4 linked regions of the Homo sapiens genome follow. The protein of the gene in region 4 purifies or fractionates together with the protein of the main gene of each other region. This does not show direct contact. Each region holds a gene or a part of one and is shown on either strand. Other genes may lie near its edges.

What was found.
Region 1: the proteins of USP47 (region 4) and QRSL1 purify together in Homo sapiens (affinity purification with mass spectrometry; 2 studies listed by BioGRID and IntAct, with this or other methods). This does not show direct contact.
Region 2: the proteins of USP47 (region 4) and ETF1 purify together in Homo sapiens (affinity purification with mass spectrometry; 2 studies listed by BioGRID and IntAct, with this or other methods). This does not show direct contact.
Region 3: the proteins of USP47 (region 4) and RPRD1B purify together in Homo sapiens (affinity purification with mass spectrometry; 2 studies listed by BioGRID and IntAct, with this or other methods). This does not show direct contact.

What each region holds. Positions count from the first base shown.
Region 1 is NC_000006.12:106,646,554-106,653,582, forward strand, and holds part of QRSL1 (glutamyl-tRNA(Gln) amidotransferase subunit A, mitochondrial), read left to right. Parts: intron 1-2,471; coding exon 2,472-2,648; intron 2,649-5,655; coding exon 5,656-5,831; intron 5,832-5,913; coding exon 5,914-6,029; intron 6,030-7,029. UniProt on the Homo sapiens protein: Allows the formation of correctly charged Gln-tRNA(Gln) through the transamidation of misacylated Glu-tRNA(Gln) in the mitochondria. The reaction takes place in the presence of glutamine and ATP through an activated gamma-phospho-Glu-tRNA(Gln).
Region 2 is NC_000005.10:138,505,570-138,512,240, forward strand, and holds the end of ETF1 (eukaryotic peptide chain release factor subunit 1), read right to left. Parts: intron 6,036-6,671; coding exon 5,906-6,035; intron 5,632-5,905; coding exon 5,476-5,631; intron 5,061-5,475; coding exon 4,996-5,060; intron 3,248-4,995; coding exon 3,100-3,247; intron 2,819-3,099; coding exon 2,736-2,818; 3' UTR 526-2,735; downstream 1-525. UniProt on the Homo sapiens protein: Component of the eRF1-eRF3-GTP ternary complex, a ternary complex that mediates translation termination in response to the termination codons. The eRF1-eRF3-GTP complex binds to a stop codon in the ribosomal A-site.
Region 3 is NC_000020.11:38,036,725-38,043,753, forward strand, and holds part of RPRD1B (regulation of nuclear pre-mRNA domain-containing protein 1B), read left to right. Parts: intron 1-734; exon of another isoform or gene 735-1,383; intron 1,384-3,710; coding exon 3,711-3,840; intron 3,841-7,029. UniProt on the Homo sapiens protein: Interacts with phosphorylated C-terminal heptapeptide repeat domain (CTD) of the largest RNA polymerase II subunit POLR2A, and participates in dephosphorylation of the CTD by RPAP2. Transcriptional regulator which enhances expression of CCND1.
Region 4 is NC_000011.10:11,935,957-11,942,985, forward strand, and holds part of USP47 (ubiquitin carboxyl-terminal hydrolase 47), read left to right. Parts: intron 1-346; coding exon 347-554; intron 555-2,300; coding exon 2,301-2,416; intron 2,417-4,472; coding exon 4,473-4,592; intron 4,593-6,378; coding exon 6,379-7,029. UniProt on the Homo sapiens protein: Ubiquitin-specific protease that specifically deubiquitinates monoubiquitinated DNA polymerase beta (POLB), stabilizing POLB thereby playing a role in base-excision repair (BER). Acts as a regulator of cell growth and genome integrity.

The sequences.
Region 1 (7,029 bases), on a different chromosome or scaffold from region 4:
GTGGGAAACTGAGGCAGTAGGATTGCTTGAGCCCAGGAGTCCTAGATCAGCCTGGGCAACATAGTGAGGCCCTGTCTCTACAGAAAAAAAAAATTAAAAAAAACAGGGAAAAGTATTAGTGACCTTGAATTAGTCAGAGTTCTTTTAGATAGGACACATGAAGCACAAATCCACTTAAAAAATTGATAGACTTGGCCGGGCACGGTGGCTCACACCTGTAATCCCAGCACTTTGGGAGGCCGAGGCAGGTGGATCACAAGGTCAGGAGATTGAGACCATCCTGGCTAACACAGTGAAACCCTGTCTCTACTAAAAATACAAAAAATTAGCCGGGCGTGGTGGCGAGCGCCTGTAGTCCCCGCTACTCAGGAGGCTGAGGCAGGAGAATGGCATGAACCCGGGAGGCAGAGGTTGCAGTGAGCCGAAATCACGCCACTGCACTCCAGCCTGGGTGACAGAGCAAGACTCCTTCTCAAAAAAAAAAAAAAAAAAAAAAAAAAAATTAATAGACTTCATTAAAATTAAGAACTTCTGTACTTTGAAATATGCTACTAAAAAAGTGAAAACGCAAGCCACAGACTGAGAGAAAAATATTTGCAAAACATGTATCTCAGAAAGAACCGATATCCAAAATACATAGAACATTTCACACCTCAATAAGAAAACAAGCAACCCTATTTTTAAAAAATGAACAAAAGATTTAAGAAGACGTTTCATCAGAGATTAAAACATAGTTGACAAACACATGAAACAATGCTTAATATCGTTGATCATTAGTGGAATTCAAAATTAAAATCACAGTGAGCTTGGGCACAGTGGCCCACACCTGTAATCTCAGCACTTTGGGAGGCCAAGGCATGGTAGTGGATGCCTGTAGTCCCAGCTACTCGAGAGGCATGAGAATCGCTTGAACCTGGATCACTTGAAACCGGGAGGCGGAGCTTGCAGTGAGCCAAGATCATGCCACTGCACTCCAGCCTGGGCAATAGAGCGAGACTGTCTCAAAAAAAAAAAAAAAAGAGAGAGACAATGATAATTAAATGGAAGACCTGACTCTAGATTTGATCCAGGAAGGAGATAAAATGCCATAAAGTACTTTTTTTTTTTTTTTTTTTGAGATGGAGTCTCGCTCTGTCACCCAGGCTAGAGTGCAGTGGCGCGATCTCGGCTCACTGCAAGCTCCGCCTCCCGGGTTCACACCATTCTTCTGCCTCAGCCTCCCGAGTAGCTGGGACTACAGGCGCCCGCCACCACGCCCGGCTAATTTTTTGTATTTTTAGTAGAGATGGGGTTTCACCGTGTTATCCAGGATGGTCTCGATCTCCTGACCTCGTGTTCCGCCCTCCTCGGCCTCCCAAAGTGCTGGGATTACAGGCGTGAGCCACTGCACCCAGCCAAAGTACATTATTGAATCAGTTGACAGAATTGAATTACATACAGTAGATTCGATAAAAGTATTGTAGGCCGGGCGTGGTGGCTCACCCCTGTAATCCCAGCACTTTGGGAGGCCAAGGCGGGTGGATTACGAGGTCAAGAGATTGAGACCATCCTGGCCAACGTGGTGAAACCCCGTCTCTACTGAAAATACAAAAATTAGCCCGGCGTGATGGCACGCACCTGTAGTCCCAGCTACTCGGGAGGCTGAGGCAGGAGAATTGCTTGAATCTGGGAGGCGGAGGTTGCAGTGAGCCGAGATCGCGCCACTGCACTCCAGACTGCCAGTAGAGCGAGACTCGTCTCAAAAAAGAAAAAAAAAATTATTGTATTGATATTAATGTTACTGAGATTGATAACTATACTGTGACTGTATAATGTGATATCCTTATTGTTAGGAAATACACACTAAAGTATTTAGGGATAAAGGGCTATGATATACATGTAAGTTACCCTTAAGATACCCTTAAGTTTCTATCATACTTTGTGTATATATGTACATATGTACAAACGTACACAGAGCACACAAGTAGTAAAGCAAAGGGATAAAATGTTGACCGTAGGTATGTCTGGGTAAAGGGTATAAAGTGCTTTATATGTTATTTTTATTTTTGCAATTTATCTGAGAATAAAATCATTTCAAAAATTTAAGTTATTAGCATTCCACTTGTAATGTTTTTCATAGAACTTCTGGTTCAGAAGTTCTTAACTGTTTGAATGTAACCCTTTTCAGCTGGAAGACCTTGATTCACAAGGGAAATCATCTTCAGTTGAATTGGATGATCAAAAGAGGCAAAATCTTTTCTTAGCAGATTAGCTTTGTCTATTTTCTACCACAAATGCTCTTCCTTCCCATCCTCCGCAACTGTCAATTAATGAAAGCTACATCTGAACAGGCTTCCCACCTTTTTCAATTCAAGCTACAGTGGGTTCTTAAATGCTCAATGAGTGTCAGAAGCAAATAATATACTCAGAAGATGAAATTTTCACATAAAATGAAAGTTTTACTAAGGTATCTTGCTTCACTTCGTCATCAGATCTGGGAGCACAGATGGTGTATTTGGACCAGTTAAAAACCCCTGGAGTTATTCAAAACAATATAGAGAAAAGAGGAAGCAGAATCCCCACAGCGAGAATGAAGATTCAGACTGGCTGATAACTGGAGGAAGCTCAGGTGGGAGTGCAGCTGCTGTATCGGCGTTCACATGCTACGCGTAAGATGCTTTTCTCTATCTGTATTTTAAAACCCACCCAAATACAAACAGTCATAAACTGTATCCAGCAATAGAGTAGTTCATATCCTGGTATTTTTCTTTCTAGTGAGCTATATGTGCTCAAAGGTATATCAAAATTATATCTTGAGTTGCACTCAACTGTACAGTACACTATGTATATTTAATACTTTTAACTTTAAAATAACAAATTTTTCTCCATAGTATCTGGTTCTCTTAAAATATGATTTTGTGGATCTTGCAGAATAAAGCATCGAACATAAATGAACTTCATTGCATTTCATTTTTAAATAATTTGAGTGTGTGCTCACTGATTATACAAATATTTAGGGACTAACATACAATGGCTTTAGTTGAGTGCTGCTGAACTAAACTGTTGGTAATGTTTATCCTTCAGCAAGATCAATCTTTTGAAAAAAAAGAAAAAATGCTAATATGTATTAATAAGATATTTTAAATAGTGTTTTCAGGAATCTGCAATTAAAAATGTACATCAGTAAGTAAAGTTTTTTCAAGCTTGTTAGGTGCTGATTCTGTTTATCTATCATACTTTGTATTTGGTAAGAATCCATTGATCATATTTTCAGTTCCATTTGTAAAGCATTTCTTAACTACCCAAAGAAAAGAAAGTAAATATGGCTGTTGCTGTGTTTATCAGTCTCAATTTAATCAAAATGAATGTGTTTCTTTAGTAATAGTTTTGTATTTTATCTCCCCTTAATTATCCATTAAAACTAAGTTCTTTCACACACATTGCAATCCATAAATCATTTATATTTTTTTAGAGCTATGGAGATGTGAGTTCTACAGATTTTTTTTCAGTTTTCCTAAAATCTTATTAACAAGTAAAACCATTTCATTTTATCTCTGTGAAATTTTATAGCATTGCATTAATATTAATGTGAGTTCTGACAAGTTAGGACTGCAGGATTAGGTGCTTTTTTTCTGTCCTCATCATCCCACTTAGTGTTCATCTTTCTGAATGTGCTTTTTAGTAGATGGCATTTTGACACATAATTCCTATGGAAATGTAAGTTTTACTTTTACATAGCCGTCAGTGAATGCTAATAAGAAAATGTATCTTTTAAAATTGTGAAAGCAACAGTCTGATTTTGTAGCTTAACTTGACACTGTAAGAAAGGAAATCTAATTTGCATTTTCTGTAGGGCACAAGTGCCATGTTATTGTTAGGAGCATTGTTCAGTCCAAAGCTTCACTTTAAATATAAGCAACAGAAGTACAGACCAAAAATAACTTCAGATTGAATGTATCTCAAACTGTAAAGTGTTCTGCTTTTGTTTCCTTATTTTTGATTTGTTTACCCCTTTTTGATTTGTTTACCCCTTTTTGATTTGTTTCTTTTACAATAGCTTTTAAAATAGGAAGATTCCTGGAGTACTGTGCAGCCACTAAAAAGAATAAGTTAGAGCACTATGCAATGACATGGAAAAATAACCAAGATAAATTGTTAAGTGAAAAATAAGTTGCAGAACCCATTTCTGTTAAAAGTAACAATTGCATAGGTATATATGTCAGTCATTGCATGGAAGTACTGCATGTCTGGATGAATGCATGTCAGAACTGGTAACGGTTATTGTGGGGGCTGTGATTCTAAGAGTAATCTTACTTTATACATCATATAGTTATATAATATTTTAATTTTTATAGTAGATATGTACTGTTCTACAGCACAACTTCTGTTTTCCTGAAATGGTTTTTTAATTGTGGTAAAATGCACATAACATAAAATGTACCAGCCTAACCATTTTTAAAAGTACAGTTCAAAAGTATTAAAAACATGCAATCAGTCTTCAGAACACTTTTCATCTTGCAACGCTAAAACTGTGTACCCTTCAACCCTCTCCCAGCCCTGGTAACCACCTTCTACTTTGTGTCTTATGAATTTGATTACTCTAGTTATCTCATGTACGTGGTGTCATGTAGTATTTGTCTTTCTGTGACTGGCTTATTTCATTTAGCATAATGTCCTCCAGGTCCGTTTTTTGTTTTTTTAAAATAAGAACAACACAAACTCTGTAGGTAACTGGGTAAAGAAATGAACAGTCACTTTGTAGTTGAGTAATGCATGTATAAATAAGTGTGCAAAATTATTTAAAATGCACATTAATAAAAACTTTTTGGTTATCACACTAACAATTTTAAAAATTACTAGTACTCAGTGACGGTACTGAAACTTTAAAACACAATCTGACTCACTGCAACTAGGGATATAAATTGGCATAATCTTTCTGACAAGTAATTTGACAGCATATATCAGAAACTTATGTGCACTAAGTCTACTTCTTGGAAGCTAGCCTAAAAAGTACTCACACATAAGCAAAAATTTATGTTCAGAGATTTTCATAACAAAGTTATTTATTAAATAGTTATTCTAGTTAGAAACAACGTAAGAGTTTAAATTATTAAACATCTCAATCCATGATTCTAAATGGGGTGGGTAGCAAAGGGCTGTATCTGAATTTCTAGGAGGGGCGTATTTAGTCTGTAAAAGCATACTGCAAAATTGCCATTAATTTGATTTGTTTTCAATATCAACATCAGAAGAAAGTGCAAGATTTATATGTATATTGAAAGGAGAATGGACTTTAAAATACCAGGAATCACGAATTTATATGATGGAATATTACATATACTTTACATTTTCAGGAATTTTAATGACATAGTAAAAAGCTAATGTTAAAAAAGGGATGGAAACTCATGATTACAGAATTATCTCAACGGTGAAAAAAATGCATTTTTAAAAAGACTTGAACTTAATATGCCAAAATGTTAACAGTGTTTTCCTCTGGGTATTGGAATATTGAGTACCTAAAGTTTTCTGTACTTTATGAATTCTCTGAGATGAACATGTGTTACTTTTGTGTAATCAGAGGAAAATACAGTTTAAAAATATACAATTGAAAGGGTAGATTCCAAATATAATTAGAGATATATCATTCTTCTAAAGATAATTCCATTTAAATTCCAGGGCTTTAGGATCAGATACAGGAGGATCGACCAGAAATCCTGCTGCCCACTGTGGGCTTGTTGGTTTCAAACCAAGCTATGGCTTAGTTTCCCGTCATGGTCTCATTCCCCTGGTGAATTCGATGGATGTGCCAGGAATCTTAACCAGATGTGTGGATGATGCAGCAATTGTGTTGGGTATTTATATAATTCTATATCATTTGCAACAGCTTCTCTATAAAACAATATATCTGTCATTCATAAGTATTGCTCCTTACAGGTGCACTGGCCGGACCTGACCCCAGGGACTCTACCACAGTACATGAACCTATTAATAAACCATTCATGCTTCCCAGTTTGGCAGATGTGAGCAAACTATGTATAGGAATTCCAAAGGTAACTTTTTCCTTTCATTACTTTACAGAAATACTGTCAAGTCCAATAGAGAGCACAGACTTGGGAGGCGGATTGGGTGGGTTTGAATCTCTGCTCTGCCACTTTTATTAATCATGTGAGTTGAGTATGTGACTTAATCTCTTTTAGCTCAATTTCCCCATCTGTAAAATAGGAATAATAAAAATACTGACTTCAGAGAGGTTTGTGAGGATCAATTAGACAGTCATGTTAAGTCTGTAAATTGTTTCTGTAATGGGCAAGATAGCAAATATTTTAGATTTTGTGGACCATGCAGTCTTTATCATAACTGCTTAACTGCCATTATAGTGAGAAAGCAGCCACAGACAATATGTAAATGAAAAAGTGTGTCTCTGTTCCAATAAAACTTTATTTTCAAAAACCAGCTGGCTTGTCACATCTGGCCTATGGGCCATAGTTTGCCCATCCCTAATGTAAAGAAAGGACTTTAGCCCAAAGCCACAACTTGCATAGTAATGCCTCAAAAAATGTTAACATCTTTACTGTTATTATTATTACTACTGCATCTATTACAGTAGCAATTGAGTAATGAATACATGAATGTTATAATGTTAAATTACTAACCTTTTAAAAATATTAAGCATTGCAATATATTAATACTTTAAATCTTTTAGGAAGATAAGTTACCCTGCAGAATAATGAAGTTTCACAACCTCAGCACTGTTGGTGTTTGGGGCTGGTAATTGTTTGTTGTGGGAGACTGTCCTGTGCATTGTAAGATGTTTAGTAGCATCCCTGGCCTCTACCCCTACATGCAAGTAGTACCCCACCACCAAAACCACAATCCCACAACCAAAAATGTCTGCAGACATTGTCAAGTGTCTCCTGGTTAGGGAAAAGGAGACAAAAGTAACCCCCAGGTAAGACCACTGCTATAGAGAAATACTACCTTATTTAAAATCTTCCATTAAGGTAATATATGTAAGGCCAGGTGCGTACACCTGTAATCCCAGCACCTTGG
Region 2 (6,671 bases), on a different chromosome or scaffold from region 4:
TGGGAGAGAGAGAGGGCCCAGGCCTAGTTTCTGCTATTCCATCTGGACCATTCTATTATAGGACTCAAAGACAGATACAGAGAGAACTTTGGAATAAGGCCTGGGATAAAATTTTGGTGTTATCACTAAAGAGCTGCTACTTAACCTTCTTTTGTTCTGTTTCATCACCTGTAAAATTGGGTACACCATCTACCTCCATGGGATGCTGGGTTATGGGATAATATACTTAACATACCTTAAAAAAAAAAAAAAGCAAGATTCCCTTTGGCATGCATATAGAATGGGGGAGAATACAAATTAGTTTGGCCCCAGCAACCTGAACCTTCTTCTTCTAGCATAACTCTGGGATCATGACCTCAGAAAAACTTTGCATATACCTTTCCATAGACAAATGTAGTAAACACAACTCAAACCCAAGGCTGAAATGCTATTGGCCGTGACTAATCTGAGGTATGCCTTGGAGAACTGTCTCCACAGTTCAGGCCTTTCTAGACCAGTCCTAAAAAATCTCAAGCACACAAAGTATATTCTTAAATATGGTTTAATACTCTTCTCCATTTCTGTACATCACAACACCAAGATTTTGCTGCTTAGTATCTCTCTGCAGAGGCTATAGAGAATGCAAAGGCTACGGTTTTCACCCCCTCTTATATGTGTTTGTATGTGTAAGTGTAATACATATCAATATATATTGATACACACATCAATATATAATGCAATATATATCACCGAAGAGAACACATTGATTAAAGAAATACAAAAATTTGGCATCATTTCCAAACTTAAATAGTAAAAATAAAAACTACAAAAGGAGCTGCATACCCTAAATGTATCATGTGAAACAACAAGCATATTCAAAAATGTAAATTTACATCCAATTTCTCTGGTCTTGTCATATCACATCAGACCCATTTACAATGGCAAAACCCTAAGGTACTGCTGTGAAGAGAGCATGTTTGCTCGCTCTTGGGTGTTCTGCAAACAAATAGCAGAGCCCAAAGCAAAAAAGCCTGTTCCGGTGAAGTCTCCCACGTTGGTGAACACCAAATAATGGACTCTTCTCACAGGGGGTTGAGACATCAGGTTACACATTGACAGACAGTATTTGGACCTCAGAGTACAGTGTGAGAACCAGAAACTTTACATTTAAGACATACTCCCTTCATTCAAGTGAAACAGGATTATTGGAACGATAGGCAGGTCTGTAACCTGGGAACAAGGAGCTGGTTCAGACCAATAAAGCTACGAGTGACTGAATCAAGTCAGTAAAGAACAGCAGTCAGGCACTAAAGTGTTAAAAGTACCCAATTTGAAAACCAAATGCACCCCACTACCCTAGTCAGTGTGGAGGTGATACCAATTGACTTTTAAAACCTTTGGTCCTTCAAAGTCCATTTGGTATACTTTTTTCCATCGCTACCACTGGGCACGTACTATACACTTTGTTCAACTGTCACCACCCTGGGCACGCCATGACCTTGCATATCAGCTGGGTTCAAGTCTGACTTACAGCCCAGCTGTGAAGCATAAGCTTCAGGGTTTCAGGCCAACTTTTGGATCCAACATGGTCTTAAATCCATGGTGCCAGAAGCTGTGTCCCATCCCTTCCCACCCGCCCCTAATTTCTCATGTGAGAAGTGCTTGTAAGTCCCACATTTGAAACAGATGCTCCAACCCCACCAGGAGGTCAGGAGTTTATAATTACATGCAGTCATACATGTCTGTCGTTCCTGTGAAAAACCTTGCAGTTCATTTTAATAAATCAAAACATTCACATAATCTCATGCCATCCAACACAAGGAAAACACATCCACCTCCCTTTTAACAAGGATTGACCCAAGCAAAATAAAATCCTCTTTAAATTTCTTCGCTTCCACTTAAATTGCATGTTTTATTTCTCCCAATCCCAGCAATAGCACAGAAGCCCCATCATATCCATCCCAAACCGGTTTCGAGTAGGTTAAGGTTATAGGGACCCTTGTCAGAACATTGATACAAAGGGCTCCCAAACGCCGGGCACAAATGTGTCTGCAAACAGATGGAAGTAAACAGTGCACTGGCCCAAATGCTTCATGAGTCAGTTTGATTTTGCAATGCAATTTGCATCCTTGAAACTGCCAGTCTGGAGGGGGACGGGGTAGCGTGAGGGAGTGAAGTTGAAAGTGCCTCCTATTAGCTCACCCTTTCAACATTAAACAGAGACCAAGAGAGAAATGGTTCCAACATTTCACCACATATATTTCTTCTTACGCAGTCTAAGCTGAGAATGCCATGTAAATGGGTCACTGCGAAATGCAGCAATTTAATTTTTCTCCAATCAAAATAAGAAACAAACCAGTATGATCTCACTTCTATTAACTTTTGAAGGTTTACAGCAGTTAAAGTATTTTTGCTTCTATGTATGAAGGTTAAAAAAATCATTTTTTTTCATAAAATACAAGAGCAACCAATTTCACCATCCAGTAAAAGTAAAAACTGGGATTCTTTTTTAAATTAGTCCAAAGTGGCGTTTAGGAACTTAGTTGTAGGCTGCTGCGCTGACACCATGACAAACCAAAGTGTAGGGCTGGGTCTGGTTTTGTTTCGGTTTTCTTTTCAATATCCAATGCTCATGGATTAAGTTCTGGAAATGTTCCAATTGTAAGGCAGGGATCTGTTTGGATTCCACCATGGGTATGCTCCTTGGGTTGGATGCTGGAGGGTGAGGCACGTTTTGCCGGACCCATGTCGACTACCTAGTAGTCATCAAGGTCAAAAAATTCATCGTCTCCTCCTTGGTATTCCATTCCCTGGAAATCTACTCGGTACCGCAAGATACCTGGGGAAACAAACCAAAAGGTAAATTACCTGTGTTCATGGGATGGGCATGTGTGTAGGTGGCTGGTAAGGGAATAAGGGAAGCCCTATTCTCTTGCAGAATTGCAGAAAGCAAAGAGGTAATAATAAACATGGGTCCAAATTAGGAACCTGCACCTGCTGCGTCAATCACCTATCCCAGCAGATAATAAGCACCTCACCGGAAGCAGGGCTAGGGCTAGCCAGGAGGGACCTTGACCTGAGACCCTGGTTTTAAGTTTGGTTTGCTGATTTGCTACTCACCTCCAATTCCACCAAATCCTTTCACAAACTGAGACCCTTCTTGTGATTTATCTGTGACAATTTCCAACGTAGCTCCAAATTTTTTATAGTTGTTAGCAAACCATTCCAACAGGGGCATGCTCTCGATAAGCTCATGTTCCTGTCCGGTCTACAGGGATGACCATGAGATACAAAAATGGGGGATTAGGATATATGAAGGCTAATTAGTCCCTCTCACAGCCCCTTGCCCACCTATCACTCTCATCCTCCCATTTATAGGCATGTCTGTGTGTAAAGCTCTGTAAGTCATCTCTGGTTTTGATAACCTAATGGATATCAGCAGAGAAATTCGGATTATTTCAAACAACACTTCTCCTCAGGCTCTACCCTCAGCTATGAAATACCAACACAAAAACTCAGTGGGTATTCAGCTTATGATTCCTACTGTTGACTCTAGAAGTCAGGCTGTTGTAGTGTCTCTAAGCAGCACCCATTCAATGGCTCAGAAGAGACATTCCAGGACTGCTTTTGGGAGTGGCCTCGTAGAGAACAAAGCTCTCCAAACCAGAATTTGAGGAAGCTATCATTTAAACCTATCTCATACGGGAGGGTCATACTTTCAACTGTTGTGATGCACTTAGAGCAAACCAGAGAAGCCACTGCAGTGGAAGAGCTGATCAAGTGAAGAAAGCAGCACAGGTTTCACAGTGCAGGAGAGGCATTATGTAAATTACATTTTCCTCCCTATTAAATTTCAAGGATAATGAAATGTTTTCCTGATTGCTTAACTACTTAAAAACAAAGACAAAAACAAACAAACAAACAAAAACCAGGCCAGGCATGGTGGGTCACGTCTGTAATCTCACCACTCTGGAAAACCAATGTAGGAGGATCACTTGGGCCCAGGAGTTCAAGACCAGCCTGGTGAACACAGCAAGACCCCATTTCTATAAAAAAAATTAGGCTGCCTGGCATGGTGGCTCACGCCTGTAATCCCAGCATTTTGGGAGGCTAAGGCAGGTGGATCACCTGAGGTCAGGAGTTCGAGACCAGCCTGGCCAACATGATGAAACCCAGTCTCTACTAAAAATACAAAAATTAGTCAGGCGTGGTGGCGGGCGCCTGTAGTCCCATCTACTCGGGAGGCTGAGGCAGGAGAATTGCTTGAACTCGGGAGGTGGAGGTTGCAGTGAGCCGAGATCACACCACTGCACTCCAGCCTGGGTGACAAGAGCAAACTCCACCTCAAAAAAAAAAAAAAAAAAAAAAGGGAATGAGGGCTTGTGCCTGTACTCCTGGCTACTCAGTAGACTGAGGCAGAAGGATTGCCTGAGCCCAGGGGTTCGAGGTTATAGTGAGCTATGATTGTGCCACTGAATCCAGCCTGGGTGACAGACCAGGACCCTATCTCAAAGAAAAAAAAAAAAAGACCGGTCATGGTGGCTCACACCTGTAATCCCACCACTTGGGAGGCCGAGGTAAGTGGATTGCTTGAGCTCAGGAGTTTGAGACCAGCCCAGGGCAACATGGTGAAAACGCCTCTCTACAAAAAATTCAAAAATTAGTTGGGCGTGGTGGTGTATGCCTGTAGTCCCAGCTACCAGAGAGGCTGAGGCAAGAGGATCACTTGAGCCCAGGAGGTGGAGGTTGCAGCGAGCCGAGATCATGCCACTGCACTCCAGCTTGGGCAACAGAGCAAGACCTTGTCTCAAAAAAAAAAAAAAAAAAAAAAAAAAAAAAAGCTGCAGCTCCTTCCCTGAAATCAGATTCGTATGTGGCAGATAGATGACCACCTCCCACAGCACCCCCAATTAGTATAAGGTTTGGTTTCCCAAAGCTCACCCTCTACACAGCCAGTACTCTAACACACGGATTTACGCTTGCACGTATCATCAAACCAAGAAAATAATCACATACCTCTTTGTCTGTGAAATGAGATTTATCCTTTTCTTGCTCTGGAGTTAGATAGAGAATTTTCTCCTCTGTAGTATTAGGAGGAAAAAATGTGTTAACCTGGCTCTCATATACTAATCTGTGTAAGCTCCATAAGATGAGGTTAGATGAGAAAAGGGCTCAGGGACTCAATCTCTCAACATTTTTTCCATAAACATGTTAGCATACACTGAGTGTCTACTAGGTACAATGCTTCAACCATAAGGAACATCAGAGATGTTCAAGATATAGTCCTGGTCCTCAGCAGATGTAACAATCTTAAGCAGACGTTAAACAGTTCAAGCAGAAAAATCTATGCAGGAATGTGCTACAGACTGAAGGACTGGGGAACAATGGGTAGATCTACCTTCTGATTGCTCCTGAAATCAGCCATCCCTCCCAAATCTCCACCCCAGGCTTCCTGGCTCAGTAACAAATAGCAACCTTATTTTCTAATTCTCATACCTTCTGTGCCTTGGCAATGAAGAACATATCTCATTATATCCAGATTTTCATAGACTATTAGAATTTCTACAGCTCCCATTTCCAAAGCCTTTAGTGTATCTTCAACGCCAAAACAGTACTTGCCCGTGTCCTGGCTGATTTCATCAAAGTATCGTCCTACGATTAGGGATCAGTCAACAGGATATATATTAAAGTTTCCCTAGTAGATACAAACACACCTATTCGACCTAATGACTAAAGAAGATAAAAAATAATGCTTTTACTGAGGCAAAAGAGTTAATAAAAATACTAAATATTCCTTTTTACATTTTTGGTACCTTGTCTCATACATACAATCACGTACATACACACACACACATACACACACACACACACACACACACACACACGAAAACATTTCACAGAATAAGTAGTTGCATTTCACCGATACCTATTAATTTCTTCTCTTGAATGAATTTCACGTTGGAGAGGACTTCAGTAGATAACTCAATAGCTTGGTTGAATCCATTTTCACCACCATAGGATATATCAACTAATTTTAAAACTTTTGATTGTAACCTCTAACACACAAAAAAAATATTATTAGTACTTACTGGTACTTATTTAAAATATTATTAAAACACCTTTACTCAAACCCACTAACTCTTAATGGTATGCAAAGCTCAGCATTATGATCACTGAAGTCTAAATATGGGGAAGGAGCCCAATTTAATCAAAAGCTGCTCTTAAAGTGAACAGCACTGCCAATTATATCACACATTTTATTAGACCTACTATAGGACAACTCATTAAGTGCAAACAAAAATAAGTTATTGTGGAGGAAAGGGGGGACCACTGGCTCCTGCCAAATAAGGTAGTAGAGGTTAAGACGGGCTGGGGAGGGTGGCTCACACCTATAATCCCAGCACTTTGGGAAGCTAGGAGAGGCAGACAGCTTGAGTCCAGGAATTCTGAGACCAGCCTAGGCAACATGGTGAAACCCTGTCTCTACCAAAAAGTACAAAAATTAGTTGGGCATGGTGACACATCCCTGTAGTCCCAGCTACTTGGGAGGCTGAGCTGGGAGGATCACTTAAGCCTGGGAGATCGAGGCTGCAGTGAGCCATGATTGCCACTGCACTCCAGCCTAGGCAAGATAGCCAGACCCAGTCTCAAAAAAAAAAAAAAAAAAAAAAAAAAAAATATATATATATATA
Region 3 (7,029 bases), on a different chromosome or scaffold from region 4:
GTGATAATAGCAATGTTTTCTATCTGTGCCATCCAACAGGTAGCCGCTTGGTATATGTGGCTATGGAGCACTTAAAATGTGTGACTAAGGAACTAAAGTTTTAAGTAGATAGAATTGAAAATTTAGTTTCCAGTTTTTACCAGCTGCAATTCAGGTGTTCCAATAGCCACACGTGGCTAGTGGCTAACTTACTGGACAGTGCAGAGTTAAAAAAAGATGCTCTTCCAAGCATCAATACCTAGCTTCCGAATATCCAGGCTTATTTCATGAACTGAAAATGCCCCCACACTGAAAGAAAAGGATTCTGTGCCCTAATGTTCAGATTGATTAGCCCTGTAGGTTCTACCTAGGGTGAAGTCATTTTCCGTAGCTGAGATGCTCACAGACTGTCTCTGAGTTGCCTTCAAAATATATGAGATTTATAAAAATTAACTTTTTTTCTTGCTTAAATACTTCTATTCCTGATGTGTTGTCTTTCCATTTTCTAGGAATAATTTTTAATTTATCCCATTTGAGCTCTGTTCTAAGTAGAACGTCTCCCCTTCTTTATGGACTAGTTTTGGTGTAAAGTGCTCCTAAATGAATGTTTTTAATGGTGTTTTGTATCTTGGCCTGAATGTAGGTAATGGGCTTTTATTGCAGAATTACTTTAAGACTTTCTGTAGATGTCAAAACCAGCCAAACAAGTGAAAAGTTTTGATTAACCAGTTGTTTAAATTTTACTCAACAACTAGTTTGACCAGTTTGGAATGGACATGGGTAGTGAGTGAAAGGACCTATTTCTGTCGTATAGGAAGGACATCTGAACAAGTGAGTTGTCCCCCAGGATTGGGATGGAGGGGTGTGCATGTTGTGTGTATTGTGACTGTGTGTGCTCAAGAGCTCTAGGGTTTTGTCATATCACCTTGACACACATGGTGCTTATGTTGACTGTTGAGGATGTTGAATATGGAGGGATACAGTTTATCCTAAATAAATCCCCATTGTTAAGTTCTGGGGTGATGAAAATTAATTGGCATTGTAAACAGTGAAAACCTTGGGTCTCAAGCCCCTTAGATACCTTGTTTGTCTACTGAGAAGTATATATCAGGTCTTGAATGTCCACACTGACATTTTACAATATGGATTCTAGGTTTTTTTTTTTTCAACATAAAGTGTATGGAATTTTAAAGCTTCACTTAATGAAATTTGCTTTGTTGAAGTTCTGTTTTGCTTTCGAATCTGCTAACTTGCATGGGATTATAGGTGTAGTAGTTTCACTTACATCAACTTTGCAGAGCAAGGTTTGCTTTAACAAAAAAGCACGTTTTGCCATAATCATACCTTTGTAGCAACAGTAGATATTGTAACTACTGACACTTTTGTTCTGCTTTTGAATAATAATTAGAAAGTTGAAGAAAGCTCCAGGTTCCTAGTATTCTTATCAGTTGGCCATCTAAACTAGGTTATTACCAGAAGGTTAAGACAATTCAGGGTATCCATATTTAATTTTATGAGCATTTAAGACATCAGTTTCATCAGTTTAAACTGTAATGTGCTATTAAAATCATGTTTTTAACTTGGGTTACTCTCCTGTAGCTACATTTTTTTTTTTTTTTTTGAGACGGAGTCTCTTACTCTGTCACCCAGGTGGGAGTGCAGTTGGCGCGATCTCGGCTCACTGCAACCTCCGCCTCCCAGGTTCAAGTGATTCGCCTGCCTCAGCCTCCCAAGTAGCTGGGTTTACAGGCGCCTGGCACCACGCCCGGCTGATTTTTTTTGTTTTGTTTTTTTTTTTTTTTTTTTTTTTTGAGACAGAGTCTTGCTCTGTCACCCAGACTGGAGTGCAGTGGTGTGATCTCGGCTCACTGCAAGCTCCGCCTCCTGGGCTCACCCCATTGTCCTGCCTCAGCCTCCTGAGTAGCTGGGACTACAGGCGCCCGCCACCACGCCTGGCTAATTTTTTGTATTTTTAGTAGAGACAAGGTTTCACCATGTTAGCCAGGATGGCCTTGATCTCGTGACCTCAGGTGATCCACCTGCCTTGGCCTCCCGGAGTGCTGGGATTACAGGCGTGAGCCACTGTGCCCAGCCTCCTGTAGCTACATTTTAAAATGTCAGATCTTATGCCTGCTATGTCAGACATATCAATGCTTTGTACATTTCAAAAGAAACAACTGGTTTCAGAGAGAAATAGAGTTACTCAGGTGTGTTAAGGTTGATAAAGAGCTTGTGTTTTTCAGGTACTTTAGCATTGGAGAAAACTTTGTGTTTTGAAACATCTAATTATGTTCTTATTTATTTCTTTTAAAAGAAAATTGGAACCAAAAATTGTAGGGATGTAACTTTATAGTTGAGAAATTATGTGCATAGAAGCCAGGGAATTCAGTAATGTTCCCCAAAGCAACTGTAACTCAGACATATTGCACGAGGTTTTTATGGTTTAATATATGATACCATATAGAGTAATAGGGAATAACCACATTTCATATAAATAAGAGAGAATTATGGTTTTTGTGAAAGCCCTAATTTTGCATATCTAGATTTCACACGTGTGTAAATTTTCAATAAGAGTGTAGTGTTAATGTATACTTGTATTTGAGCTAATATCTATTGGTGCACCTAGAGATTCTTCTATATTATTGATTATGGTTATTGGAGTATCAGAGAAATTCTCAGTTTAGGAGCAAAATTACAAGAAACCTTTTTTTTTTTTTTGAGACGGAGTTTTGCTCTTGTTGCCCAGGCTGGAGTGCAACAGCATGATCTAGGCTCACCACAACCTCTACCTCCCGGATTCAAGCGATTCTCCCACCTCAGCCTCCTGAGTAACTGGGATTACAGGCATGTGCCACCACGCCAGGCAAATTTTGTATTTTTAGTAGAGACGGGGTTTCTCCACGTTGGTCAGGCTGGTCTCAAACTCCCGACCTCAGGTGATCCGTCCATCTCGGCCTCCAAAAGTGCTGGGATGACAGGCATGAGCCACCACGCTCGGCGAAACCATTTTAAAATTGAAACCTAACTCAGTCTTTTTTTTTTTTTTTTGAGACAGAGTCTTGCTCTATTGCCCAAGCTGGAGTACAGTAGTGCAATCTCGGCTCACTGCAACCTCCACCTCCTGGGTTCAAGCGATTCTCCTGCCTCAGCCTCCTGAGTAGCTGGGACTACAGGTGCCCACCATCACACCCGGCTAATTTTTGTATCTTTAGTAGAGGTAGGGTTTCACCATGTTGGCCAGGCTGGTCTCAAACTCCTGACCTCAAATGATCCACCCACCTCGTCCTCCCAGAGTGCTGAGATTACAGGCATGAGCCACTGCGTCCGGCCAACTCAGTCTTTCATTCTGAAATATTTGATAATTAAAAGTGAGTTAGAAGTTGCTCATTTTTGCAGTAGAATAAATAAAAGCCCTAGTTTCAACATTAACACTGACTGCTTATCCTTTAGGAATTCTCTTTGGATTATCTTAATTTTTACTATCAATTAATTACCCTGGTTTAAACAACACAGCAATGAAGATGGCCCATTCTTTTTCTTTTTCTTTTTTTTTTTTCCGAAATGGTATTCCCAAACCTATTCCTTAGGTGGTCTTTTTAAACATATCTACTTGACCCCCCAGGTAGATAATACTTGTCTTAATGTTTTTTTAGGAGCAGCCCAGGGCAAAAGAATTGTGAATTGAGAATTTCTTTGGTGTAAGTTAAATTCTTTTCTTTTCTTTTTTTCAGCCAAATCAAATAGAAAGCTTACTTTTCTGTATTTAGCGAATGATGTCATCCAAAACAGTAAAAGGAAAGGACCTGAATTCACTAGAGAATTTGAATCTGTCCTTGTGGATGCTTTTTCTCATGTTGCCAGGTATGTTGTCTGTTTTTTGGATTTGTTTTTAAATTCATTGCCTTTCCCACCTTTTTGTTCTTTCCTTTTCTGTGATAGCCTTTGTAAATTGACAACTTCCTACTTTACAGAGAGTTGTGGAGGCCGAATTGTGGTTTTATGTTTTGTTGAGCCCTCAAGAACTATCGAGACATGTAAACATTCTGATACATTTGAGAGATTCAGCCTAGCATTATCTTTCTTCTAGATATATTCATTTTCATTTTTTGAATTTATTTCTTGGTTATGGTATTTTCCTTGGTTTGGTTGAGTTGTCTCATCAGCTTATGATCAAAAAACAAAGCTAACTAGTAAGGGAACCTTTTAGTAACATAACTTAATAGCAAGAAATTAATTGCCAAATGCCTTCCTTTTTATTTCCTTCTGGATTTCTAGATGTCTAGTTTACTAAAAATAGTAGGCATTACTGTAACTGCAATAATAGTAATTATTAGTGTAGAAAGTAGGTGTTTGCTCTGGCTATATTGTATTAAGCCTGGTGCTGTTGTGTTTTGTGGCAGAGAGGAGTGGCACTCATACAACTAATACCATAGAAAGCATACATTGGATTAAAAGTTTTATAAATTACTTTACTTCATGTAAAAACAAAAGCTTTCTGTGGGCTTAAATTAGGTGCCCAGGAAAAGCAAAGAAAAACTATCGTTCATTAGAATATTATGTTTATAAGTAAATATATAAACAGATATTTGCAAAAGGAATTGGGAAACATGAATGGGAGACTAGTAGGTTAAACATAAATTGTTACTAGGTCTAAAATATAGTGAAAGGCCTTAAATGAGAAATGAAGTCCTGCTTTCATTGCAGGATTTGAAAAGTTTGAAGGAATAAAATTAGAAATCCAAGAGAAAGAAATGACACCTAGCTTTCTAGAGATGAAAAAGATGGTTTTTGTGGATAAGTTACATAACTGGCTCACCTTTTGATCAACATGGGCGCAAGTAGCAAAATGTGTTATTAACTTGAAAAAAATACTGAATCTTCATAACAGAGTAAGCTTAGAACAGACTACTAGAGGAGCTATCTGAAATAGACAGATTTTCTTGCTTTGATGAGATTTAGTTCACAGTTGCTTAGAAATTGATGGTAGCTCTGCCTCAGACACTATGTGAGTGACCTTGGATGTGTTACTTAACTTTTTGAGCCCAAATTTCCTAACTGGCTAAAGGGGGAGGATACCACTCCCCCTCATAAGAGTTGTGAGGGTAAAGACAGACAATATGTTTAAAAGTATGTAGTACAATGCCTGTTCCACATTTGCTCATTCATTGGATCATTTGTTTTTTCCTATATTCCAGGCACCTAGTAAAGTGTCTGGCACAGAGCTGCTGAGTTATGTAGCTTGAAGGAATACCATTTATATAGCCTCCATGTAAGTGGTGTCCCAGGAGCTGGGCAACATTATGGTCTGCCCTGACACAGTAGGCGTTCAGTAAATATTTGTTAAATGAGTTAATTAATGTTAACTCATTATGGAAGAGATTTGGTCTAGGGAGTTGGCTGGAATGATTTCTTGTAGGGATAGTAAACATAACAGTGTTATTAAAAAATTCCAGCCTGGGCAGCATAGTGAGACCCTGTGTCTACAAAAAATTTTTTAAAAATTAGCCAGGCATGGTGGTGTGCACCTGTAGTCCTAGCTACTTGGGAGGCTGAGGCAGGGGGATTGCTTGAGCCCAGGAGTTCAAAGCTGTAGTGAGCTATAATCATACCACTGCACTCCAGGTTTAGCAACAGAGCATGACCCTGTCTCTAAATTACAAACAGACAAACGATCTGTAATCTTTAGCTGTCCTGAAACCAAAAAGTAAATAGAAAGGGGTGGAAAAGGGGGTGGGCAACACCAGGGTTAAAAATTCCTTTTTTCTTGGGAACACCTTAAAAACTAGCCAGGTTTTAGGTGTCTTGGCAGATTCAGTGGCAGTGTGAGGAAGATAAACCTGGTCCTTCTCAATAAAATAGCCCGAATTCCTTTCTGTTTGCATTCTGGTTCTTTTAAGATTCTGCTTGGGTATTACATTCAGGATACCCATGTTTCCAATCTCCTTTCTTATACCCCATTATTGGGACAGAAAGTCCAACAGTTCTGCTTCAACCGTGATGCAGCTCGTCCACAGTAGGAGTAGCCTAATTAACATATACTTTCTGTGTGCTTTTTCTGTGGTCAGTTGATGAACAAAGATAGTTGACCCATTACTGTTGACTAAATTGATGAGGGATATTTTTATGATAAAAGACACCTCCACACCCAAAACAAACAAACAGTAAAAAAAACTCTCAAGTCAGAGAAAGCTGCCAAGTTCATAGGATAGATTTGATTTGAATAGCAGTTTAATTAACCAGACTGCAAACTTGCTTTTCATACAAGTGCCTTGTTTTCTTCCCAGTGAGGAGACAGCTGTCCATGTCATTTTTCATTCAACATGTATTGGAGTGCCTTCTATGTGCCAAGTATGGATCCAGACACGGGGGGAGCAGCAGTGAACAAGGCAGGCAAAGACAATTAAATGAGCAAGATACTTTCAGAGCAGGACAATATGGACATAGTAAAATGGAGTGATGTTCTAGAGTAGGATCTCACAGGTAGTGTGGTTCAGGAAGGCCTCTAAGGAAATGACATTTGCGGTAATCATGCGAAGCGGGAGCAGCTATTAAGAAAAACTTAAGGCAGAGATCATCTTGGCCTTCTAAGAGAAACAGAATGAAGGCTGGTGTGGTTAGAATATAGTGCACAAAGGGAAAAGTGATATCCAGATGAGGTCCGAGAGGTGGACATGCAGCAGTCACATACACCCTGTAAGTCTTGGAAGTTAGGATTTTTTTCTCATGGGATGTCATTGAAGAGTTTTAACCAGGGGAATGATATATTCCAATATATTCCAACATACATTTTTAAAACATCCCTCTTTAAAAATGGCTTAGTGTAGAGGGATGGATTGTAAAGGCCAAGGGAGGGGCGGGGACATGAGTTTGGAGGATATTGCTGTGATGCAGGCTAGAGGTGACATTGCCTAGGACTCAGAAGCAATGGGAAGATACTAATAGCTTCCATTTATTGAGTGCTTCCTTCGTGGGAGGATCCCCACCTCTCCAGTGTAAAACTGATAGGATTTATAGGCGTTGAGTGGGAGCTGGTAGTAAGTGAAAAGAGAA
Region 4 (7,029 bases):
TTTCCTCTGTGTTTCCAGATTAGTTGATTATGAACAATAGTTACAATACATTGATTTTGTTTCTACACCTAAAGTTTATGATGTTAACTTTTTAAAAAATAAAAAATGTATTTAGTACATGCTTTATATGATTGGAGGGATAATGAAACATAATTATTTAAAAATAACATTTAAGTTGTGCCTGTAACTTTGATGTCTTTGATGCAAATCATAAATGTGTGGATTTTGTTAGGGCCTATTGTAATGTTATTCCCCAACAGACTAAAACACTGTGTATTTATATATGTATATATATAAATATATATGTATATATATTTTTTCTTTCTGGGGGATTACTTTCTTTTAGATGATGGATTTAGAAGAGGTAATACCCCTGGATTGCTGTCGCCTTGTTAAATATGATGAGTTTCATGATTATCTAGAACGGTCATATGAAGGAGAAGAAGATACACCAATGGGGCTTCTACTAGGTGGCGTCAAGTCAACATATATGTTTGATCTGCTGTTGGAGACGAGAAAGCCTGATCAGGTTTTCCAATCTTATAAACCTGGAGGTGAGCAATTTTACACTATTTTTAGTTGTTCTGTACTTAGAATTTTCATGAGAAAGTTTTTTTTTTTATTGTAGAAATGAACATAATTTAAATTTTGTATATGGTCTTAAAATGTAGAATAATTTTGACAGGTTGAGAAGTACTCAGCAACAGCTTGGAATTAAGTTCTAGATTACTTGCAAAGAGTTGTGTACATAATTTTAAAAACAACAAAAAACAACAAAGCTTCTAGCTTACGGTCTTCAGTGGGTTTTTTCTTCTCCAGTGGGCGGTACTGAATCATTCTGGATGCTGTCAATCCCTAAAGTTATCAATTGCTCTCTTAGGAAGATCTCTCTTTCTCTTTCTTTCTCTTTATGGAGAAGACCTTGGTCCAAAAAAGTATATTCCCATAAAGTCTCAGAAGTAGAGGCTGTTTTTCAGGTCTTCTTTGGAAGGGTGGATTCATTATCCCATCACTGTCAGCATTTACAATTTTTCGTCATCCTCTCTATTTCTACAGGTCCCAGGGACTTCATCTTTTCTTTCTTCATTAAATCTATCACATTCACTCAGCACATTGAGTTTGTTATTTTTTTTTCTTTGAGACTGCTTAGGAAAACCAAAATATCATGCCCCTAGTTTTCCCAGAGACAGTTTCCCTATAGACAGTTACATGGTCTGTTTTTGTCCAGAGTTTTCTATAATTACCATATGTAAATTGTAACAAATAGAAGAAAAGCAGAATGTTTATATAATTTTACAAAATCCATACTGTTTTGTCTTGGCCCTAACTCCTTTGCATCAGTGGTTAGTGAGAATTAGGTTCTCTGTGTTTTTTCCCTAAAAGTTGAACTTACAAAACTTTATTCTGCCCTTTTACAATAATGTTCTTCTGTGGATCCTGTATATCTCCTTTTTAAATGAAGGCCTCTGTTTACAGAGTAGGTTAGATGTAGTATTCTTTCAAGGAGTCTACGGCTCTTAAGTGGGAAAATTTTATTTCTGGAAACCTTATGATGTCTACTTCGACTTCTAAGACTCTACCCTATCTATAAAGAGTCCCTTAAGGACATTTCCTTGCTTTTTTTTTTTTTTTGCTAGACAAGAAAAAGAATGATTAGGATATAACATGAGTCAGCAGTAATACCACTTATTTGAAAGAGAACTCTAAATGCAAGTGTGGATTGTAAGACTTATAAAGTAGTCTTTATTCATTAATAATCAAGATCTTAGCAGAATATTTTGTCAAATTTAGATTAACAACGTAGGGAAAAAACTGAGGATTGACATAAAACATGAGGTTAAAACAGATACAGAATAACTGTGTATTAAGTACAATGTTTGAAGATCATTTATTTTTCAAGTGATTAAGAGTTTAATTGTAAACATAACCTTCTGAAAACAGAAGAGAATGGGATTAAATTTCAATATAAAAGATTTAAGTGAGAAAACAAAGGCATAATCAGAACAGTTTTTGTGTGGAATTTTCCTTGGGATATAGGAAATATTATTTTGAGGATAAGTCTTTGATGATGAACAAGGTGGCTTAATAAGGGGTTTGTTCAAAAGCAAGCAGGAGTGCTGTGTCACCTTTAATATTTGTTTTGCAGTAACTGGTGATTTATATTTATTCAGTGTTGTTTTCATCTGTACTTGGAAGTTTGGATTTGTCACCTGTTAGAAACACATTAAGAATGCATTACTCATGTGAAATACATTAAAAAATAACCTCCAATTCTGTGTTTATGTCTTCAAATGTGACAGAAGTGATGGTGAAAGTTCATGTTGTTGATCTAAAGGCAGAATCTGTAGCTGCTCCTATAACTGTTCGTGCTTACTTAAATCAGACAGTTACAGAATTCAAACAACTGATTTCAAAGGTAAGTTTTAAAAGGGGTCTGTAAATAAATTTTTGAGAGCCTGCTATGTACAAGACACACTATGTGACAGTTATGAATAAGATACATGCTTTACCTCCAGGAGCTAATTAATATTTGTAGTTAGGAGACAACTGTAGTTAAAAGAAACAGATTGAGTAAAGTGTGGAGGTAAGAAAGTGTAAGGCAAGTACATATAACAACTTATATGTGTTGGCTGGATTATCATAAAATACAGGATTGGAAATGTAAGTACAGTTTATTTCATGAAGAGCTTTAAACAGTAAACACGAAAGTTTGGGCTCCTTTTTGGCGTAGGCAATAAGTCGAGTTTTTGTTTTCGTCATTTTTAAGTGCGGCAATGCTGCATTTAGTGTCTGGTGACACTAGACTAGCGTTCCACATGCCTTGAGGGGAGTCAGGAATGGAGAGGAGGAAGCTGTTGAAATAATTCAAGTGCAGTTGTATGACTGGAAATGAGAGAAGGCATGGATTCCAAGAGAGATAGAATCTGTAGGACTTGTAATTGTTAAATGTTGGGGTAAAGCAGATGCACCGATGACCTGAGCCAGGGGTTTCAAACTTGGGTAACCAGAAAAGTAGGGATACATTAATAGAAATAGAGGAGGAAGGTGAGGCTGTAGACTTGACAGGGAAGGTGATGAATTAAATACTGGTGCCATTATGTGAGCTAGTGATAAAGAACATAGGCTCATTCCGATTTTTTGAGCTGGAAAAATATAACAATGAAAACATTCAAATTTTGGGGGGCAAAAGGATTAGTCCACACCAGACAAATGATTATCATCCTTACAAGGGTCCTGTACTCTGCAGAACCCTGAGCATACAAACGGCAGATTTTGCAGGGTTCTTGAACCGTAGGTTAATATTCCCTGGTGTAGTGGAAATTGTTCCATAATTACAAGTTGAGTCCAGTTTTCAGTCATTCATCTTATGGTAGTCTTGTCTTTCATCTCATTATCTGGGGTTGTAAATACCTGTTTAGCAGAGTTGTAGTGAACATTAATGAAAAATAAATAAATGCTCTGAGGAAAAAAATTGTAAGGCATTATGTAAGAGTTGGTGGTTATTATGTTCTAAAAAAAAGTCTATATTTTGACTTCTGTATATGACTTCTAACAATTTTGCTAAAGTAATAACCAAGAAACAAATCATTTTGTGAAATTATATTTTATGATTAAATTGCTTGTAAATGCATACTATGTTGGTATAATATACTGTATATTACATTTTTAAAATATGAATGACAAATGTAAAAAAAATTAGTTTAATAAGCACTCACACATAATACAAAAGAAAGAGACACAGTAGTTTCTTCCCCAAGAAGTTAATAATCTTACTGAGAAAAATATGTCTATAGAGAATAAAGGCAGTCACAAAACATCATGTAAACAAATACAGTATTTTTAACCAGCCTGCTTAAGAATTAGGTATTTATAACTGATGACCTTAGTTGCATTGAAAAGAAATTGTGTTTTTTAAATGTAAAGTATTTTTATCTGCTGCTTTCATGTCAATTTATAAAATGACTCCAAAAATTAAAGATGTGGACTTTCAGAAAAACTTAAAATTTTCCCTACTAATCTTCTCATTTTACACAAAGGAAAATTGCTTATTGCTTTAATAAAAGTATTAAAAACTATTCACAGACTATAGAAAGGCCTGTCAAAAGCCAAGAAGTTCAACATTTTGATATCAGCAGTCAAAAAGTCAGTTACGCAGTTTCTTTGGAATCAGATCACTCATTTACTTGGCAAGTTTGAGAGCAATAGAGATTCTAGGAAAAAATCCTTACCTTTAAAATAGTTTCAGAGCATACATTTATAAATGGTACTTTGTTCTCCTGATTTGCAGTATAATTTATGGCTATAAGTAATTTTTCCCTTCAATTATTCAAAAATTTTAAAACCTCTACTAAAATTATGTTTCTCTCTGCTGCTTTTAAGAAGAACTCAGCAGTGTCTTGCTTTCCCATATTTTTAAGTCAAGCAGAATTATTTTTGAAAGAGTACTTTTTATTAAATTGCTTTCATTATAGGCCATCCATTTACCTGCTGAAACAATGAGAATAGTGCTGGAACGCTGCTACAATGATTTGCGTCTTCTCAGTGTCTCCAGTAAAACCCTGAAAGCTGAAGGATTTTTTAGAAGTAACAAGGTATGTCATTTACTTTTTCATTACTATTTTCTATGCTGGTAGTAGTAAATGAAATTAGGTTCAATATTATAAGCCTGGCCTCCACAGCTGTTCAACATCTGTCTGGAACTTAATTTAAAATTCTCAACCCAGTAATTACCTTCCTTTGTAGTCAGGTCAGGTCAGGCTCCCTTCTGTCCTGTGAATCAGTCCTACTGGTTCTCCTCTTCTTTGCCTTTGTTCATGTGCACTCCCACCTGGAGTGTTCTTCCTCCTCTCCCTGCATTTTTTTTTTTTCAGTCTCCAGATTAGTCCTACCTCTTTGGTGAAGACTTCATAACCATTTCTTCCCACAGTGATTATGTCCCCTGGATTGTGTTTATTCTTGAGCTTGTCCCATAAAGCAGTGCTTCATGGTGAGGGTCAGAGGCATACCTGGTATAGAGAAAATTATAATCTTGAGTTCACCCAACATTATTCCTTTTGCCTACTTATTTTTCTCTGTTGGAAATGAGAAAGTTCATGTTAATCCTCTTCTTTTGTCTTGCTATTATTATGTGTTTGATCATTTATCATTTTTCATATGTGTTTTTATCACTCTAGTCTCATTCATCTTAGTACAGTCTAGTCTTTTATCTCATTTAACTTTTTTAGTATTTTATTACTAATATGTAATTTTTATTCACCTACACTTCTAAAACTTTTGTGTGGTGGGGGAGGGGATGTACGTGTATATGTGTGTGTATATGTAAAACATTAAAATTTCTAATCCCCTCCAGTACATTACTTTAGGGTAAGAAGTGCAGTAGGGAAACTTTTCTTTTTCCTTAAACGGTTAGCGTACTGGTTTCAATTTGTAACATTTACTGAATAGGATAATGATAGTGTTATCCTTTTATGCAAAACCCAACATGCTATTTATAATTGCCAAATTTATGCCAAGTACGAATTTCATTTTAAAAAAAGATTTATTATGGAAAATTTCAAACGTAAACAAAAGTAGAGAAAATAGGGAAAATAGAGTGAACCCCCACACATCCCCATCTCTCAGCTTCCACAGTGATCATCTCGTTTCATCTATAATTTAACCACCTACTTCGCCCAGATTATTTGATAAACTTCCTCAGGATCATATCATTTCATCTATAGATAATATGAACATATATATCTAAATGAAGAGAACTCTTTTAAAAAAATGACAATTACATTATATACCTAAGAAATACCTTAATATCAGTCAATATCTAGTCAGTGTTCAAATTTCTCTGATTGTCTTAGAAAATTTTTTTCTGTAAATTTTCCTGTGTCTTTTTTGTTTGCTTCCTTGCAGTTTGTTACAAAGCCAAGTCATTTGCCCATTAAATTTTTCCATGATCTGGATTTTGGTGTTATATTCACAAGGTGTCTTTACACATGTTCCTGTGTCTGTAGTTCAGGCTAAACTTGGATTTCCTAAAGGTGAAAGATTTCTACAATCTAAAGAAAAACCAGAGTATTAATTTCCTAAAGAGAAGGATATATAATACACAACTTTCTGAAATTGGACAACCCAATAAACAAGATGTTTGTGTGTATGTGTATGTCCATACCGTCTATCTTAGTGTAGTTTTATGGCTAGTTACAAAGACATTTGAGCCTAATGTTCATTTTATTCAGTCTCCAAAACAATAGAGTCCTTCAGAAACTATATCATCACACATGTTATAACATAACTGTGTATTGTGTTGTATTGATGCAATATAATGATGATGATGAATGAGCATGTCACTAAAATTAATATATAATAAAACTCTGACTTACTATGTAGGTGTTTGTTGAAAGCTCCGAGACTTTGGATTACCAGATGGCCTTTGCAGACTCTCATTTATGGAAACTCCTGGATCGGCATGCAAATACAATCAGATTATTTGTTTTGCTACCTGAACAATCCCCAGTATCTTATTCCAAAAGGACAGCATACCAGAAAGCTGGAGGCGATTCTGGTAATGTGGATGATGACTGTGAAAGAGTCAAAGGACCTGTAGGAAGCCTAAAGTCTGTGGAAGCTATTCTAGAAGAAAGCACTGAAAAACTCAAAAGCTTGTCACTGCAGCAACAGCAGGATGGAGATAATGGGGACAGCAGCAAAAGTACTGAGACAAGTGACTTTGAAAACATCGAATCACCTCTCAATGAGAGGGACTCTTCAGCATCAGTGGATAATAGAGAACTTGAACAGCATATTCAGACTTCTGATCCAGAAAATTTTCAGTCTGAAGAACGATCAGACTCAGATGTGAATAATGACAGGAGTACAAGTTCAGTGGACAGTGATATTCTTAGCTCCAGTCATAGCAGTGATACTTTGTGCAATGCAGACAATGCTCAGATCCCTTTGGCTAATGGACTTGACTCTCACAGTATCACAAGTAGTAGAAGAACGAAAGCAAATGAAGGGAAAAAAGAAACATGGGATACA